3 linked regions of the Homo sapiens genome follow. The protein of the gene in region 1 interacts with the protein of each later gene in a pairwise test. Each region holds a gene or a part of one and is shown on either strand. Other genes may lie near its edges.

Region 1 (5,770 bases):
TCCCAACAACCTTTGAGAATGGACGCTGCATCCAGGCCAACTACTCACTAATGGAAAACGGAAAGATCAAAGTGTTAAACCAGGAGTTGAGGTGAGTGGCTGTGGGCGTCCGGGGCCAGGCCTGCGGAGTGCTGATGCAGAGTGACTGGGTGTCCGGCAGCCTGGGTCAGGGAGGATGGGAACCTTGCTGGATCGGGACTGCCTGCTCCTAGCAGGAATTGAGAGGAAAGCGTTTGGCAGGCAAGGATGGCAAGGACTAGGATCCACTTATGCATTTCCATGACCACCTGCGGGGCACAAACTGACAGGGTTCCTGCACTCACTGCAAAATAGATACTCTGGTAGCAAAGAACATCAAGACCATCTCTTCTGACCTCCAGTCTGGGAGAGAAGCCGCTTCGACACCATCTGCTGACAGAAGCATCCAGCTTTGTTCAAACACTTCCAGGAACTGGGAGCTCATCGCCTTCCAGGACAGTTCATCCCATCTCTGGGCAGCTTAATCTATCAGAAAGCTCCTTTTCTTATTAAGCAAGAATCACATACACAACATTCACACTCTAGGTTATGTAAACAGGATATCCTTTAGAAGTGTACATTTCTATTACTGAGGGCTTCTAACACAATAATTAATCCAAAAAGCTACGCTTTGGAAAGCAACTATAAACTTAAAAAGAGCCCCAGGAAGAGCTCCTTCCTACCCACCTTCCACTCTTGAAAATACAAATGCAGTTTTTCCATGAACATGTTGTGACTTCATGGTCAGAGACTGGTGTCCTGAAAACCGTTCTAGAGCAAAATGCAATTGACGGTGAAAAGGGCAGAATCTGCTGGGAGGAGACTGGTTTGTTGCTAAGTTAACGTATGCAGATAGAAACAGACCATCTTCCCCAGCTGTCTGAGATCCAGATGAGAGAGGAGGGCACGGTCTCCAGCTTTACATGGTGATAAACAGAGAAAGTACTTGGGAACATCAGAGCACAGTTCCCAGAATCCCTGGCCTGTTGCTCATTGTCCTGTTTCTAGGACATCCGTCACCACTAACCATAGCATTAACCTACTGACTTTCTTTTTTTTTTTTAATTGTATTTTAGTAGAGACGGGGTTTCACTGTGTTGGCCAGGCTGGTCTTGATCTCCTGACCTTGTGATCCGCCCCCCCTTGGCCTCCCAAAGTGCTGGGATTACAGGCGTGAGCCACCACGCCCGGCCAACCTACTGACTTTCTAACACATACGACTGCTCTAATTTCAGTTGGCCTCCCTGCTCTGCCTTGAGGATTGATAAACAGACATCCTCTCCTCTGTTGGCTTCCTAGGAAGAGCACCCTGATGCCTTAGCACCCTCCCTTTGGTGCCTCCATCTCCACACCTTTCCCCTTCTCCCAAGTTCATGGGGCCATTGGGAGTCATCTAGAAAGCAGGCTCATTCAAAGAGGTGAAAGTATTGCATCCAATCTAAGCCCCCAGCTTTTAAGACACACCACTGCGTTATATGCCACTAAGAAAGGAATGACACTGCTAATTGTCAGGTGACATCAATTGTGAGATATGCATTTCTTCACATTTAATGTCTCTGAAATCTGGGCATACCTGAGAATCACTGAGATAAAGTAAATGTTTCTTCACTGCCTCCTTTTACTTGGCCTACATTGAAATCCCCCACACTCACTCAGAGGCTTGCTGAACTAGAGGGAGTCTCTGGACTCAGGCCCCTTGATGGGACAGGCGATGTCACATGATATCACTGAGGCCCAAAGAAGGGGAACGCTTTTATGTCTCCTTGTTTTGAATTATTTTCAGTGATCAAGTCCATCCTCATCTGTACCTTTGGCCCTTCTCGTTTTAAAAAGAAGTGAATCTGCCAGGCACGGCGGCTCACGCCTGTAATCCCAGCACTTTGGGAGGCTGAGGCAGGTAGATTGCCTGAGGTCAGGAGTTTGAGACCAGCCTGGCTAACATGGTGAAACCCCGTCTCTACTAAAGATACAAAAAATTAGCCAGGCGTGGTGGTGCATGCCTGTAATCTCAGCTCCTGGGGAGGCTGAGGGAGGAGAATTGCTTGAACCGGGGAGGCAGAGGTTGCAGTAAGCCGAGATCGCACCACTGCACTCCAGCCTGGGGGACAGAGCAAGACTCCATCTCCAAAAAAAAAAAAAAGTGAATCTTCTTTGTGTGTTGGGTTGTTTTGTTTGTTTTTCCATTCTCTTTTCTCCCTTTCTTTGGAGACTGGGAGCAGGAATTGGTCTTTCAGGCCATAGAAGATAGTCAGAGATAGTGTTGAAGTGCAAGGGCCTAACATACTGTCCCATCCTGGAGCTTGTCAATTGCGGCTTCTTATCACCCCGCTGCTCTCTTCCCCTGCTTGGCCTCAGAGACAGTCACAAGGGAAAGGCCAGGCCATGGAGCTAGGGTCTAGCCTGCCTTTGAGAGCCTCTCTTACCAGAAATCACGGTGTTGGCTGCCACGGTCCTTAGTGGCACAAATCTTGCCTTTCGTTGCTTATTGGCTTTCAATGAGTTGTTTTTCTTTTCTCTTTTCGTTTTTTGTATTTTTTCTTTTTTTAACTCACTGCAGAGCTGATGGAACTGTGAATCAAATCGAAGGTGAAGCCACCCCAGTTAACCTCACAGAGCCTGCCAAGCTGGAAGTTAAGTTTTCCTGGTGTAAGTATCCACTTTTCCCAGGAGGATTCAGGGACAGGAAATATGCAAACTGAAGGCTAGCGCCCCGGCTTGGAGAATTCCTGAGACACCTGAGTGTCATCTATAATCACTCAGCACATAATTATCTGTCAAACACTTACTACATGTCACGCACTAGGGTTGCCATGATGAGCCGGACAGAGCTGGCCTTGGTACTTATGGAGCTCACATCCCAGTGTGGATACTGACACGTGACCCCGCAATTTACTATAACTAGCTAGCGTTTCAACAGGTGAAACACAAGTAGGTGCACACCGGGTGTGGGCTGCAGAAGACACAACCCAGTCTTGTTTCCCAAAGGAAACTGGGGCCCGAAACATTAGCAGATATTAGCAGAACAACCTGCACGGCGCAGAAACTAGGAAGCAAGAGATGACAAGAGTGACGGCAAGTTTGAATCCTGCTTCTGCCACTTTCCAGTCACATTGTTGGGGATCCTGTGAGATACCTAATGACAGGCATTTGCCTCTGGGTTCTGAGCTAACTGAGGAAGGGACACAGGCAATAGAGAAAGCACCAAATATTAGTTTTATTTCCGACGAAGATACACTAGAGAGTTCAACCCAGAACTGTGAGGCTTTCTAACACGAAGAGTGCTTGAAAGCCCCTTTCCCACCTGCAGGGTAGACACTGAAGTCATCAGCTACAAAAGTTACTCCCTGCACTTCCTACTTCTCATCTCTGCCACTCCTCCACCCCACACCAGTCAAGTGCCTAGAGCGGGGAGGAGAGGAAGTTCTAATTTTATAGACCAAGAAAGGAATGCTGGGAGGAGAAAACAGTTCTTCTCACACTATGAATATGGACAACTAACTTCACATGTACAAGCCAGAAATAACTGCCCAGTGTCGTGAAAATAAACCAGATACACACGCTCTGTAAACTGTAAAGGGCTTTATACACAGTTTCTCTTGTTATTTTTATCAAGAAGGGAGCTAAAGTGCAGGTGGGCTGAGTGACGCAGGCCATCACTGAACTCATTAGAAGTAGAGTTGGGACCTAAACCTAGGTCTCCAAACTCTCAACTGAGTATTTTTCCCATAGGGATCAGGGACGGGGATTGGAGTGAAAGCTAACTATTACATGCATAACAAGGATTAGATGTTTGCGTTAGGCCTTGTAGGATTATGGGAGATTATGGAAAAGGATTTCCAAGTGAAGGGAACTGGAACATAGAAGAAGGCCTGAATACAGGCATATCACGAAGTCAGGAGTTCAAGACCAGCCTGGCCGACATGGTGAAACCCTGTCTCTACTAAAGATACAAAAAATTAGCTGGGCATGGTGGCGTGTGCCTGTAATCCCAGCTACTCAGGATGCTGAGGCAGGAGAATCGCTTGAACCCAGGAGGTGGAGGTTGCAGTGAGCTGAGATCGCGCCATTGCACTCCAGCCTGGGCGACAAGAGTGAAACTCCATCTCAAAAAAAAAAAAAAAAAAAAAAAAAAAAAACGAAGAAGAAGAAGGCCTGAATAAAGAGGCCTAGAGCCTGGGAGTGTACATGAAGAGGGGCATGAGGTTAGGAAGGGCCTTGAATGCCACATTAAAAGGCTTGAAGTTTCTTCCATAAACAATAGGAGACTGTCAAAGTTTTCAAATAAGGAGAGACATGTGAAGTTTTCTGTATTGTATCTGGGTAAATTTATTCTTCGGAACTGGACCACGAGAGGAAGGCAGAATGTGCCAGCCTGGGTGAGTGCAGGTGGGCCATGATGCCGCTGCTGGCAGAGGTGGGAGACAGATTTTTGCAAAATCACTCTGGGCTTAAGAGTTCTCAGTCCACCTGGGAATACACAGAGCAGCTGAAATGTGCAGATGGGTGATGACTATAACGCTGTCTCTCTCTCTCTCTCTGTCTCTCTCTCTGGGTGAGTGAGGCAGGCAGGCAGGCAGGGCACCAACAGTGCTAGAAAGGGTAAGTCAGAAACACTCAGTCTAGGCTTTCGTCCAAACTTCTTTCCAGGGTCTTTCTGTTTCTGGATTGATAAACAAAATCAGAGGTGGGGGGCTTGGTGGGTGGTTGTCTGGGCCAGCCTTCTTGTGTTGTCCTGAGATTTCTCTTGCCCTCTCCCTCCAATAATGCTGCCTCTCTCTGGTTCTCAGTTATGCCATCGGCACCGTACTGGATCCTGGCCACCGACTATGAGAACTATGCCCTCGTGTATTCCTGTACCTGCATCATCCAACTTTTTCACGTGGATTTTGCTTGGATCTTGGCAAGAAACCCTAATCTCCCTCCAGAAACAGTGGACTCTCTAAAAAATATCCTGACTTCTAATAACATTGATGTCAAGAAAATGACGGTCACAGACCAGGTGAACTGCCCCAAGCTCTCGTAACCAGGTTCTACAGGGAGGCTGCACCCACTCCATGTTACTTCTGCTTCGCTTTCCCCTACCCCCCCCCCATAAAGACAAACCAATCAACCACGACAAAGGAAGTTGACCTGAACATGTAACCATGCCCTACCCTGTTACCTTGCTAGCTGCAAAATAAACTTGTTGCTGACCTGCTGTGCTCGCAGTAGATTCCAAGTTGGATTAATTATTGTGGGTTTTTCATTATAAGCTTATGCTTAGAAATCCTTAAACAGGCTGGTTGTGGTGCCTCATGCCTGTAATCCCAGCACTTTGGGAGGCTGAGGCAGGAGGATCACCTGAGGCCGGGAGTTCAAGACCAGTCTGGGCAACATAGCAAGACCTCATCTCTACAAAAATGTTTTTAAAATTAGCTGGGTATGGTGGTGCACACCCGTGCTAGCTACTCAGGAGGTGGTGGCAGGAGGATGACTTGAGCCCAAGAATTCGAGGGTACAGTGAGCTATGATGGCACCACTGCACTCCAGCCTGGGCAACAGAGCAAGACCCTGCCTCTAAAAAGAAAAACAGAAAAAAAAATCCTTAAGCAGTTATGTTGAAAAAAACCAAGCACTGAATTGTCCTCATTTAAAGGTAACAATCCTGTTTCTGGAGTGGGGGAAGCTGATGGCAAAGGCGTATTCTGGGTGACCTGAATCCAGATGCCCCCGTTCTGGAGTAGATGCTGCTTTCAGGGTGAATTACTTGGGC
Region 2 (7,450 bases), on another chromosome or scaffold:
GAAGACATGCAGGTGAACAAACAATACATAGATGAACAACCAACAGATTAAAATTACATTTCCCAATTATGTTTGTCCTTGCCCACTCTACCACAGCCCCTCTGGCTTCCTTGCTGCCTCAAGCTTCGCCCCCATGCCCTCACGATTCTCTCACCTTCTTGAAAAATTGCTCAAATCTCACCTCAGTGAGGTCTCTTTGGGCACCACCTCCCCTCCACCAGCAATCCCAATCCCCCTCACCCTGCCATATGTTCTCATTTCTGGTACTTACTACCTTCAAATGTTCTGTATAATTCACTCATTCATTGTGTTTAATGCCTATTCTCCACCTCCCCACTAGGAATCTTTGTCTTACCAAAGTGTCCCACACACCTTAAAGGGTGGGAGCTCAACAACTACTTATTGAATGAATCTCTAAACATTGCCCACTAAGTCAGAGCTGGGCTTGAAATACTCAGAGAAGTGACCGGATTCTCCCACAGCCCCCCGTCCTATGTTTCTCAGAGACTCGTTCCCCCTGGCACTTCCCAGTAACTGGAAGAGAGATTCTACATCTCCCAATTCCAGTCACCAGAGGGATTGACTGAGGATGGTCCTCTTGGGCCCCATAAATCTTTCTGCCCTTCTCCTCAGGCCAGGGCTCACCTGGTTCTCCCTAAAGAGACTCTCTGCATATTGAGTCTGTGTCCCATAACTGGAGGCACCCGGAGCCATGGAAAACACATGGGCTTGAGAGCTATGCCACAACCTTAGGGTGTCATTTCAACTCTAGCCTTGGTTTCCTCATCTATAAAATAAGGGCTGGGACCAATGATCTCCTCCAGTCTTTCCCAGTTCTGACATTTTCCCTGTGGAAGTGGGGGAGTGCGTAACCTTGGTCAAAACGTACTTAGAAACAAACCAACCCATGGCCCTGGGGCACAGGACATAGCCACACTCAGATCATAGCAAATATAACCAACAAGTGAACAGGCATTCACAGCATCACATAGGTTAGATTAGCAGCCACCATCTGTTTTCACAAAGCAAAAAAGGCAGTGATTATTATCTCTATTTCACAGATGAGAAAACTGAGGCTCAGAAAGGCTAAACAAGCCACCCGCACACAGGAAGCAGAAGAGCCACACTCAAAGCCAGGTCTTCCAATGGCAAATTCCACAGACTTTCCACAAAGAACTGCCTCATTGCTTTTGAAATGCACCCTGGGCCAGGTGCAGTGGCTCATGCCCGTAGTCCCAGCACTTTGGGAGGCTGAGGCAGGCAGATTGCTTGAGCTCAGGAGCTCGAGACCAGCCTGGGCAATACGGCAAAACCCCATCTCTACAAAAAATACAAAAATTAGCTGGGTGTGGTGGCCTGCGCCTGTAGTACCAGCTACTTGGGGGGCTGAGGTGGGAGGATTGCTTGAGCCCAGAGGTGGAGGTTGCAGTGTGCCAATATCAGGCCACTGCACTCCAGCCTGGGTGACAAAGCAAGACCTTGTCTCAAAATAGAAAAGAAAGAAAAAGAGAGAGAGAGAAAGAAAGGAAAGAAAGAAAGGAAGAGAGAGAGAAAGAAAGAGAAAGAAAGAAAGAAAGAAAGAGAAAGAAAGAAAGAAAGAAAGAAAGAAAGAAAGAAAGAAAGAAAGAAAGAAAGAAAGAAAGGAAAAACGAACCCTGGTAGGAGAATGCCACCATTAGATTATCCAAAATGTCAATAATCTAATAATCTATAAGATTACAGAATATAAAATTGGAACTTACATTTGAATGTGGTTATGTCTCCTATTCTAGACATTTACTTATTTATCTCAAATAATGCAATACAGACACCCTGGGAAGACATCCCTCTGAAAGACCTGAGAAAGTGATTCTTGGTAGGAATAGACAAGTCATCTCTCAATGGTAGCTAAGGTGAGCCTCTTTCCCGATCTCTTTCAAAACTTTCCCCAAGATATACACGACTGAGTGTTTATATTTTCAAGGACTTCCCAGCTACAAACAGAAGAACCAATAACAAAGATAACTTAATCAATTGGGTACTACGAGTAGAGGAGTATCTTCTTTGTTAACAGCGTAAGAAAACAAAGAAAGTGCTAAATTGAAAAGCTAGATTTGTCTAAATCCGAGAGACTATAACTGGTTCAGAGCCTTGTTGACAGCCCCGTTTTTCTGGATTCAAATGCATCCTCTACTACCATCTCTCACAAAATGATGATGAGCGATGACACCACCCACTACATTAGCCAAGTTGGACTGGGAAGCCTTGGATAGGGAGAACTTCATTTTAAAGAGAAGCTTTGTAGATTCTTTTCTCTTCATAGGACTATATCAGGGAGAGCGCAAGCTTCAGGAATCAGCATGTACTGAATATTCCCAAAGAAAGAATGATTGGATTTTTTCCCCTCATCCTCTGACTTCTTACCTTATTGATATTGCAGGGATCAGCCTTGACCATCTATTTTTAACTGAAGGATTTGCTATAGGGCATTGTCCCAGTCAGTGTGGGCCCTCAAACTTGGGAGTTCAAAAGAAATCAGACATCTAAAGTAAACAAGGTTTTGGGCTAGTGACCATTTTATTTAAAATGGAATTGGGGACTCACACAACATTGGTACCATCCTCCTTCAAACTGCCCCCATCAAAATGCAATATGTCCATGACACCAGAAAGGACAGGAAGGGGGGGTGGGGTGGTGAAGCCAGTGCTTAGATTTTTTTTGTCTAGTTTGCCCTCCAAGTTGTCTTCAATTTAGTAATCATACATTGCAGATTTCATAAAACAATCTAAGTTTCAACTATTTTTGCTCCATTGTTTTCACGAATAAACTTGTAGGATAAAATGCCCCTATTTTTGGTTTGGAAATGTAGTCAAAATAACCATTTTTTATACTACCAATAGTCAGTCCCAGATGATGGGACGGGAGTGGGCCTCAGAGAGCATATGTCCATGCCCTCCAAGCATCATTCCTCATTAAGCCACATTAGAATTTAATCCAAGAGCCTCCTGGTGAGCAAAACCATCATATCCCCATTTAACAGATGAAGGCACTAAAGTCTAAAAATGTTAGCTGACATTGATTGAACTTCCGCTACTCAAAAGTATATGTAATTATAAGTGAAACGTGGTGAGAAAGGCTATTACTTTGACAAATGGCACCAGAATTCTTTGGAGTGTTAAGGCTCCTTTCAAAGAGGGAGACCACCCTGCTGAAGGTTTGTTTGTGTTTCTTTTTTATTGTTTTGATCTTTTTAGAAAGCTCTTTCCTTTTATGTTTAGTTGACACATAATAATTGTACGTATTTGTGATACACAGTGATATTTCAATACATGTATACAATGTGTAATGATCAAATCAGGATAATTAGCATATTCAGCATCTCAAACATTTATCATTTCTTTCTGTTGGGAACAATCAAAATCCTCTCCTCTAGCTTTTTGAGACTATACAATAAAATAGTTAACGGCCAGGCATGGTCGCTCATGCTTGTAATCCCAGCATTTGGGGAGGCCAAGGCGGGCAGATCGCCTGAGGTCAGGAGTCTGAGGCCAGCCTGGCCAACATGGTGAAACCCCGTCTCTACTAAAAATAGAAAAAAAAAAATTAGCTGGGCGTGGTTGTGGGTGTCTGTTATCCCAGCTACTCAGGAGGCTGAGGCAGGAGAATAACTTGAACCTGAGAGGCAGAGGTTGCAGTGAGCTAAGATCGTGACATTGCACTCCAGCCTGGGTGGCAGAGCGAGACTCTGTCTCACACACACACAAAAATATAAAAATTAAAATAATTAATTAATTAATGTTAACCATATTCACCCTACAGCACTGCAGACCACCAGAACCCATTCCCCCTATCTAGCTGTGCTTTTGTATCTATTAGCAACATGCTCCCCATCCTTCCTTCCGCCACTACACTTCCCAGCCTCTAATATCCACAATTCTGCTGAAGGCTTTGAGAGACAAGAGCAAACCACCAATAAAAAATGAAATATGGTCCTTTGGAAAGGACCAACCACTCTTGGTGTGACTCAGGGCAGAGGGATTCACACAACTGACCACTTACTGTCCCTACATCATTAAGATTCTCCCAGCTGATGATAAGGCCTTGGGAAAATGCCCCTAGGCTCATGCGCTCTGGAGAGACGCCAAAGGTTTACTGATGTACAGGCCCAGTCTGCTGCTAAAAGAAACTTTGGGAGGCACAGAAGCCCCAGCTAAGCTTTCACACATCAGCTTTCCCCATCCTCCTCCCCTCAGTGCCCAACACAGCTCTCCCATTCTCTCACTCCCATTGTTTCCCAAACATCCCTCCCTTCATAAAAGCTGTCTGGCTGGGAGCTTAAAATATTGCTGGACAGTAAAACCTACCCATCAGGGCCAATCCAGTCATATCTGCTCAGTCGTGCAGCACAGTAGGGGCGGGGTAGAGAAGTGGGAGGTGGGCTTTTAGGCAGCAAAGGAAAGAGACGAAAGTTGCCATTTTGCTGCTGAGCGCCAAGAGAGAAAGAGCACATATTTCTCCGTGGGACACTCCTTGTATTGGCAAGTTTTCCTTGGGTGATATTAGTTTGTAACCTTCCCCCCAATTGTTCTTTCTCAGCCTAATCTAAGGGCCATATATAGGCTTCTCCAAAAGGAAAAAGGTTGCCAATAAGATTCAGTCTTGGGCTGGGATGGCTAGACTTACACTCCAACTCTGAAAACCCTCTTCAAGTTGACCTAAGAACTGGCAGAGGTTTGGAAGGGAGAGGAATGCTGGAATAATCAGCAGGATGGGGAAACAGAGATGTCCAAACTCAAACTACAATTTGACTTCTTAAGCTCTTTTCATGTCTACAGGAATCCACAGGGACCTAAACCAAGTATTTGATATTTATGAAAAAGTTTTGTGCCCTTTTCACTCAAATTCTACAATAGAAATAATAGTCATAATTACTGAATGCTGTGGGGGTAGCGGAGGCTTCGTGCTCAGCATTTTCCATGTTGGAGCATTTAATGGAGCACAGGAAGGGATCTGGCTAAGGACCATAAAATTCCTCCTAGGAGCAGGTTCTGTTGTCTATCTATGAGAACTGCTGGCTAGTGGCTGTTCTAGAAACTAGAAAAGAGGCACTTTCCACCTGGTTACCAACCAGAGTGGTAAGTGGCCATTGAACGCTTTGGATAACTTATTAATGGATGTATATGTGTTATTCTGCCTCTTCAAAACCAGAGGAGGGCTATGCTGTAATGGGCTTAGATCTAGAAGACCAGGGCTCACAGCCTAGCTCTGCCCTCACTAGCTAAGCCCCCATCTTGGAGACTCATTTCACCTCCCAGCCTGTCTTTTTGTCTGGTAATGGGGATTGATAATGCCAAGTTCACTGGTTCTCAGACATCCATCTGGGGATCTGTCAGTTCTAGCTCAAGATGAAGGTTTCCACAACCTGTGACCAAAATGTGACAATGATAAAGTTAACAATGTAGTAAATGTTTCACCAAGTTAAGTGTGTTCAATTTAAAGGCTTGTCTTTTATTCTGAAGTTATGTCCTCTCCAGTTTTGTGGTGTTAAAATCCCCTTTTATGAAATGATGATGAAAATAGACTGTAGTTGTAGTTAGTAATTTAATAACTCTTTTTTTTTTTTTTTGAGACAGAGTCTCGCTGTGTTGCCCAGGCTGGAGTGCAGTGGTGTGATCTCAGCTCACTGCAGCCTCCACCTCCTGGGCTCAAGCAATTCTCCTGCCCCAGCCTCCCAAGTAGCTGGGATTACAGGTGCCCCACCACCGTGCCCAGCTAATTTTTGTATTTTTAGTAGAGATAGGGTTTCACCCTGTTGGCCAGGCTGATCTTGAACTCCTGACCTCAAGTGATCCTCCCACCTCGGCCTCCCATAGTGCTGGGATTACAGGCATGAGTCACCACGCCCAGCCAATAACTCTTATTTTTATGTCCTTGTTTGGCAAAATAAGGAGTTGGTATCCTTATGTTGGTCACACTAGTTTGTTATTATTATACTAGTCTGTGAAATCTAAGTCTGAGAACCACTGGCCTAGTTCACAGCTTGTTATGAGGACTGAAATAAGATACGTGAAAATGTATCACTTAGATCAAGGATACCCAAACATAAGGTGTTATTTTAATCATTACCTCTAGCCATCATTTTCTGGTGGGATGTTCCTGGCCATATATGGACACCCTGGGGTTGGAGGCTTGAACTCTATCCATTTATTTTCCATCTGTAATAGGTCTGTTCACTAAATTTTCACAAGCAAAATAAAACAGAGAATTATCTCTGAGAAAGAGAAGAGAAATAGTCTTCCTTTGGTTCAGATTTCTCCCTGCTCCCACAGAACGCTTTGCTTCTCTGATCTGACTTCCTTTAAATTTTCACTGTTAGAAGTCAGGAAACCAATACATTTCCCTTCGCAGCTCTAAAGTGTCTCTCCTTAACAGCACAGTAGGCCTGTTTCAACATCATGGGGTTGGAAAGATTGTGTCCTAAATTACAGTTTCTCTCCTTCAGTTATCACAAGAAACTGTAACTAGACATTTAAAAAAAAATACAATCTTAGCATGGCGGCTTAGAGTATAGAAAGACATGGGCTTGTTTGGCTTTGGTTTCAAAATTACTAATGAGTGGTCAGGAACGACTTCTTGTGTCATGAACATGTATCATGACACTCTTGTCAAGAATTGTTGGCCTTCCAGTTTATATATTTGATCTCATACAAAATAAGCAGTTTTGTGTCTCAGAGCAGCTGGTTGGGGATCAATTTACTATCCTTTTTGTTATTTACCATTTTTTACAAGTTCTTAATTTTTCTGCTGTTAGCTGTAGCAAGAGGACTGAAGTTCCTTGGTCTCTAGTATTCATATTACAGGAATTTGGGGATTGAGAATTTCAGATTTCACAAGGATTACTATTAGAACCATGCACTGCTGTCTATGGAGCTCCCACTCTGTGAAGGGCTTTGTTCTGTGTTGTGATGGTTCACAAAAGATGAGGCCAAAATGGTTCCTGCCCTCCAAAACCTTTTGATACTAAAGGGGGGAAAACAAGATTGGTTAACATACAGGACTGAGAGCATGTGCTCATCACACACATTCATGTGGGTATGTGAGTGAAATACACTGTCAAAAATGAACTGATATATCAATGAGGGTAAGTATTAGCAAGATAGTTAAGATTCAGTAAGATATTAGTAAGATAGTAAGATATTAGCTAAATCTTATAGAAGTACAGTTATTCAAATTGCTGTTTTAACATAAATTTTAGAATGAACTATTTGATAAGAAATGAACTTTTTCCTGGCTCTGCCACCAGTGAGCTTTATGCTTGGGCTGCTTACCTGATTGTGATGTTTCCCACCTATTTTCCAAAAGGCAATGGGAATGGCTACCACTCTTACCAGGGCAATTACTAGACTTAACTATAGTCTGAAGAGTTAAAAATAGATACATGTGGCTGGGATTGAGTTGCTGGTTCCGATTC
Region 3 (7,034 bases), on another chromosome or scaffold:
AAGGAGACAACTGTTGGCTGCCTGTGGGAACACTGTTCTAGAAGCCACAGACAGTGCAATGTCCTGAAGCAGGAATGGAGTGTTCTCAGCCATTTAAGGGAATGGAAGGGATCCAGTGTGGCAGGGGATGAGTGCTGGGAGAAATCAAAGAGATGGCTCAGGATCGTATATGGCCTTATTGGCCCTGGTAAGGACTTTGGATTTACAGAGCCATGATAATGAAACTAATGATTTCAACAAACGAGTATAATGCAACTGCTATGAAAATAGCAGGGTGGGGAAGAGGGAGAGGCTGTGAGAGAGCTCCAGGAAGTTGGTAGGTGATGCCTGACAATGATGGATTAACAAATGACCACATGCACAAAGCATTAGGTTGGTGCAAAAGTAATTGTGGTTTTTGCCATTACGTTTGCACCCACCCATTAACTACAATGGTGGAGGTAAATACCGGAGGAAACAGCTGAAAGGGTTGAAAGTGGCTTTGCTGGGGGTGAGGAGGGACAGAACATGAGGCTGTTGCTTTTCACTATAAGTCTTTCATACGAGTTGATTTTCTGAAAACTGTAAGCATTTTTTTAAAAGCTTATGAAGTTATTTTTTTTTATTTTTTTTTATTGATCATTCTTGGGTGTTTCTCGCAGAGGGGGATTTGGCAGGGTCACAGGACAATAGTGGAGGGAAGGTCAGCAGATAAACAAGTGAACAAAGGTCTCTGGTTTTCCTAGGCAGAGTGTGTGTGTCCCTGGGTACTTGAGATTAGGGAGTGGTGATGACTCTTAACGAGCATGCTGCCTTCAAGCATCTGTTTAACAAAGCACATCTTGCACCGCCCTTAATCCATTTAACCCTGAGTGGACACAGCACATGTTTCAGAGAGCACAGGGTTGGGGGTAAGGTCATAGATCAACAGGATCCCAAGGCACAATTTTTCTTAGTACAGAACAAAATGAAAAGTCTCCCATGTCTACTTCTTTCTACACAGACACAGCAACCATCCGATTTCTCAATCTTTTCCCCACCTTTCCCCCTTTTCTATTCCACAAAACCGCCATTGTCATCATGGCCCGTTCTCAATGAGCTGTTGGGTACACCTCCCAGATGGGGTGGTGGTGGCCGGGCAGAGGGGCTCCTCACTTCCCAGTAGGGGCGGCCGGGCAGAGACGCTCCTCACTTCCTAGATGGGATGGCGGCCGGGCAGAGACGCTCCTCACTTTCCAGACTGGGCAGCCAGGCAGAGGGGCTCCTCACATCCCAGACGATGGGCGGCCAGGCAGAGACACTCCTCACTTCCCAGACGGGGTGGCGGCCGGGCAGAGGCTGCAATCTCGGCACTTTGGGAGGCCAAGGCAGGCAGCTGGGAGGTGGAGGTTGTAGCCGAGATCACGCCACTGCACTCCGGCCTGGGCACCATTGAGCACTGAGTGAACGAGACTCCGTCTGCAATCCCGGCACCTCGGGAGGCCGAGGCTGGCGGATCACTCGCGGTTAGGAGCTGGAGACCAGCCCGGCCAACACAGCGAAACCCCGTCTCCACCAAAAAAATACGAAAACCCGTCAGGCGTGGCGGCGCGGGCCTGCAATCCCAGGCACTCGGCAGGCTGAGGCAGGAGAATCAGGCAGGGAGGTTGCAGTGAGCCGAGATGGCAGCAGCACAGTCCAGCTTCGGCTCGGCATGAAAGGGAGACCGTGGAAAGAGAGGGAGAGGGAGAGGGAGAGGGCTTATGAAGTTCTTGATGATGGGTGGGACCCTCATCTGTCAATGTGTAAGATGTGAAACAGCCCTGACAATGTAGCTGGTGCTAGAGGGACGGGCCTGTGTCCAGGGTTGGAATATGCTGTGCAGACCAGGAATGCTTTACATTCCGGGGTGGTCTTTTCTAGATCACTGTCTCAGTCTGCTTGTGCTGCTACAACAAAATACCACAGACTGGGTAACTTATAAAGAACAAATTTATTTCTCACAGTTCTGAAGGTTTGGAGGTCCAATATCAAGGCACTGGTATGTGGTGTCTGTTGAAGGCTGTAGCCTCACATGGCAGAAAGGGCAAAAAAGGGAAGCAACTCCCTCCATTCAGCCCTTTATAAGGGTGCTTAATCCCATCCACAAGGGAGGAACCTTCATGGCTTAATCAGCTCTTAAAGGCCCCACATCTAATACTATCACACCGGCAACACCTGAATTTTGGAGGGGACCCATTCACACCATAGCATTCCAATCCTGGCCCCCCAGAATTCACGTACTTCTCACAAACAAAATACATTCATTCCACCACAATTGCCCTCAAAAGCCTTAAATCATTCCAACATGAACTTTAAAATCTAAGTCCAGAATCTTATCTAAGTCAGGTGTGAGAGAGACTCATTCACTTTGAGATAAATTTCATCCTGAGGCAAATTTCTCTCCAGCTGTGAGCCTGTGAATTCAAATGAGTTGCGTACTTTGATTCAAATACAATGGCGTGACAGGCACAGGACAGATGTTTCTAGTCCAAAAGGGAGAAACAGGAAGGAAGAAAGGAGTAACAACAGGTCTCAAGTGAGTCCAAAACTCAACATTAGATCTTAGGCTTGAGAATAATATTATCTGACTCCATATCTCACCTTCTGAACACACTGGGGTGGGTGTTGGGCCCCCAAGGCTCCAGGTGATACCACCTCCAAGGCTTCCCTAAGTATTGGCCTACTGGGGGCTCTCTGCAGTGGCTCCACCCCGGTGACAAATCTCTGCTCGGGCCCTGAGGTCAAAGAAATCCTTTCCATCGAGGTGGAGGCGGCCGTGCTCCCACAGCTCATACAGTATGCATACCTACAGAGTCAGCACCACATGGATGCCACCAAGATTTATAACTTGCGCCCTCTGGAGCAGTGGCCCAACCTGCACCTGGTCCTGCTTGAGCCACAGCTAGGGTGACGGAGGAATGCTCTGCTGGAAATGTGGGGAGCAGAGACCTGAGGTGGCCCTAGGCAGTGATCTCTGAGACCCCGCAGGCGCCTGGGCCCTTCCCCTGAAACTGTTCTGCCGCAAGGCTCTAACCCTCTGGGCCTCTAATGAGCAAGGCAGCCCCAAATGCCTTTGGGGTCATTCTCCGAAATGGCTTTGGAGTCATTTTCCGAAATGACTTTGGGGTCATTTTCCCGTTCTCTTGATAACTAGCACCTGGCTTCCTTCTACACATACTAACCTGCTTATCAGTCCTGTGGCCATACCCGTGGTTTTCTCTCCTACACACACGTTTTTCTCTTTTTCATGGCTAGGCTGAGAATTTTTCAGATATTGACCTTTAGCTTTCCTTTTGATGGTAAATTCTGCCTTCAAATTATTTCTCTTTTCTCACGTTTTTTTTTTTGTTGATGTTGTTGTTGTTTTTGAGATGGAGTTTTGCTTTTGTCACCCAGGCTGGAGTGCAATGGCGCGATCTCGGCTCACTGCAACCTCCCTCTCCCGGGTTCAAGCGATTCTCCTGCCTCAGTCTCCCGAGTAGCTGGGACTACAGGCTCCTGCCACCGCGCCCGGCTAATTTTTTTATGTTTAGTAGAGACAGGGTTTCACCATGTTTGTCAGGCTTATCTCGAACTCCTGACCTCAGGTGATCTGCCTGCCTCGCCCTCCCAAAGTGCTGGGATTACAGGCGTGAGCCACCGCACCTGGCCTCTCATGTTTTTCTATAAGCAGTTAAGAGAAGCCACACAGCATCCTGAACACTTTGCTTTCTATCTCTTCTGCCAAATATCCTAGGTCATCATTCTTAAGTTCTGCCCTCCATGAAGTCCTAGGAAACGACATAATTCAGGTAAGTTCTTTACCACTTTCTAACAAGGATAACCTTTCTTCTAGTTTCCAATACCTTGTTCTTTATTTCTGTCTGAGACCTCATCAGAATTGCCTTCACCATCGGTATCTCTATCAACATTCTGTTCATGACCACTTAGGCAATCTCTAAGAACGAGGCTTTCCCCACAGCTCATATCCCACATCTACAGCTCTCCTCTTCTTCTGAGCCCTCACCAGAATCATCCTTAGTGCTCCGTTCATGGCAATCCAGGCTTTTTTCAGCACTCACTTCAAAGCTGTTCCAGCTTGTATTCATTATCCAGTTCCAAAGCCACCCCCACATTTTTACATATTTGTTATAACCCCTGGTTATAAATGTTATAAACTCCTCTGGTACCAATTTCTGTCTTAGTCCCTGTTGTGCTGATATCACACAATACGCAGACTGGGTAATTTATAAAGAACAACAATTTATTTCTCACTGTTCTGAAAGCTGGGAAGTCCAAGATCAAGGCAGCAGCATCTGGTGTCTGCTGAGGGCTGCATCCTCACATGCAGGAGGACAAACAGGGGACCAGCTCCCTCCAGCCAACCCCTGTATGAGGGAGGGCATCTGCTCCTAGTTCAGGAGGGAGGGGCCCTCATGGCCTAGTCCCTTCTTAAAAGTCCTCTTCTCGGCCGGGTGTGGTGGCTCACACCTGTAATCCCAGCACTTTGGGAGGCCGAGGTGGGCAGATCACCTAAGGTCAGGAGTTCGAGAAAAGCCTGGCCAACATGGTGAAACCCCGTCTCTACTAAAAATATAAAAATTAGCCAGGCGTGGTGGCGGGTGCCTGTAATTCCAGCTACTCGGGAGGCTGAGGCAGGAGAATCGCTTGAACCTGGGAGGCAGAGGTTGTAGTGAGCCAAGATCGTGCCACTGCACTCCAGCCTGGGTGACAGAGTGAAACTCTGCCTCAAAAAAAAAAAAAAAGTCCCCTTCTCTTAATGCTATCACCTTGGCAACACCTGGATTTTGGAGGGGACACATTCAAACCACAGCAATCACCAACAACTGGTATTTTTCTCCCACCCTACATATTCTTTAGGTAACCACCCAGGCCAGTGGGGAAAATAATCAATCTACTTCTGAATAAATCCTAGCTATAGTTTCATGCTACTGCAAATGGGATAACAGCAAATCATGCCTGAAAATTTTTGGAATAAGGTGATGTTTACATCGTTATGCTGATTTTTACAAACTGTGAATCATATTGACCAGGTTCATTTGTACTAGACCACCACACCAAAACTTTATAAAATTATTTTCCAGTTGGGTGAAAAATGATGTTGTGCTTTCGTTTGCCCATCTCTAATTTCCGGGAGATTTATAATTTGTTTGTATTATTTTGTGAATCATCCGTTCATGTCTTCTGCCTATTCTTCTACGGTCTTTTTCTTATCAATTTGTAAAGACTCTAATGTAATAGCCAACTGCTACAAGCATGTTTCTGATTTGTTGTTTACCTTTTGATGTTCTTGATATTAAAAGATGCTTATATAGCTGAACGTTTTTCTTTTCTAGTTCCCCCCTTTATGTTTATGGCTTGGAAGTTTTCTCTATCTGAGATCAATAAATATTACCTATCCTCCTCTTTCCCCACCCTCATCCTTTTATTTTACCCACATGTTTAAAGCATTACAGACAGTGGAGTCCAGTTGGTTATGCAACTCACTTTACAGATGAGACTTCAGTGACGTAACATAAGGCTTGTTTTATGAGAATGTGTTGATCCTTCTTAACGTGGCTTATGATTTGCAATCTCAGGCACGTATTGTGTTTCCTGCCAAAATATACATTTGTTTGCTTGCTTCATTAGCCACCTAACAGCCTTCCCCTAATTTTTTAGGTGTCCTGATGGCAAATTTCAAGGGCCACGCGCTTCCAGGGAGTTTCTTCCTGATCATTGGGCTGTGTTGGTCAGTGAAGTACCCGCTGAAGTACTTTAGCCACACGCGGAAGAACAGCCCACTACATTACTATCAGCGTCTCGAGATCGTCGAAGCCGCAATTAGGACTTTGTTTTCCGTCACTGGTAAGAGCAGGGGTCATTTGGTCTAGGGAATCTCCTCATCATACCCAGAACCTTTAATTCATTTTCTGAGCCCTGTGAAATAGATGTTCCCACTGGCAGAGATAATAGGGCAACAATTTCCTGATGGCCACTAGACTATTTTATCGTAACATCCATTGTGTACAGAGCTTTATAATACTAACGGTTGACAGCTCTCACATCATGGGACACTGTGAAAAACTCAAATCAACAAGGACACAGGTATGGAAAGTTGTAGGAGCAAAACACCCACTGTATGAAAAAGATATGACACAAATAAAAAGAGAAAAAAACAAAATAGATTAGGCTCACGTACCTTAGTTGTGACAAAGTAGAAAAATCACCTTTTTTCCTCAATTGTCTCTCCCTCCAGATCCTTACAGTAGTTAACACCCAACCCACTGGCTTATCTTCATCCTCAAGTCTCAAGCGCTTATAGAGAGTTTATGTAGATTCGTAAATTAGCCAGTGGGAGAGAAAAAGCAGCAGAGGGCTGTTGAAGAGGAATTTTCCTTCACTCTGCCCCATTCCAACAAGATCCACCCACTCCCACTGTTTCCTTCGCATCCACTCCGCTCCACTGCGGCCCTCCAGGAACAAGCAGTGATGACAGTAACAAGTGTTCTTCCTCAGGACCAGCCCCACCTGGGGGGAATGAGGGGTCTTAATCTGCAACTGACAATTACCACTTGTCATCAGTGGCCTATGGCTTCTTGGAGAGAGTGAAGCAACATCGCTTCTCTTGGAGGAAGCAAAGCTTCACAGGGCTTTGTTGGTCTCATCCTGCTGAATGTCCCCACTCACCATTCAGGCATCAGAGAGGCCTCCCGTGAGAAGTGACAGGGACCTGTGGCTTAAAGGATCAGGACAGCATCAACCTTGCCTAAATAAAGCTAGGACAATTACAATATTTGGCCCCTTGACTGGGTGAAAATGGTACTCATTCAACAGCTCTCTGGCACTCCTACCACAAGCCAGGAAGTCACTGTTCCAGGCATAGGAGATACACTGGGGAACCACACAGCCGCTGCTGTCACAGGGCTTCCATTCTAGTGTCACTGGGACTTTTCCTGGGTCATTTCCACAACTTCCTGACTCTGTGTGTGGGAATTCAAAAAGGGTCTGGCTTGAGAAACAAGTATCTGGGAAACGGAGTCCAAAATGTCATC

The links. Proteins that work in one complex are often made in the same cells at the same time.
Region 2: the proteins of APOD (region 1) and GJA8 interact in binary tests that used the Homo sapiens proteins (3 or more experiments, as listed by UniProt).
Region 3: the proteins of APOD (region 1) and TMEM45B interact in binary tests that used the Homo sapiens proteins (3 or more experiments, as listed by UniProt).

The regions. Positions count from the first base shown.
Region 1 is NC_000003.12:195,568,171-195,573,940, reverse strand, and holds the end of APOD (apolipoprotein D precursor), read left to right. Parts: coding exon 1-91; intron 92-2,575; coding exon 2,576-2,664; intron 2,665-4,805; coding exon 4,806-5,041; 3' UTR 5,042-5,236; downstream 5,237-5,770. UniProt on the Homo sapiens protein: APOD occurs in the macromolecular complex with lecithin-cholesterol acyltransferase. It is probably involved in the transport and binding of bilin. Appears to be able to transport a variety of ligands in a number of different contexts.
Region 2 is NC_000001.11:147,898,345-147,905,794, forward strand, and holds the start of GJA8 (gap junction alpha-8 protein), read left to right. Parts: upstream 1-4,450; 5' UTR 4,451-4,517; intron 4,518-7,450.
Region 3 is NC_000011.10:129,846,814-129,853,847, forward strand, and holds part of TMEM45B (transmembrane protein 45B), read left to right. Parts: intron 1-3,736; exon of another isoform or gene 3,737-3,791; intron 3,792-4,848; exon of another isoform or gene 4,849-4,979; intron 4,980-5,661; 5' UTR 5,662-5,669; coding exon 5,670-5,847; intron 5,848-7,034.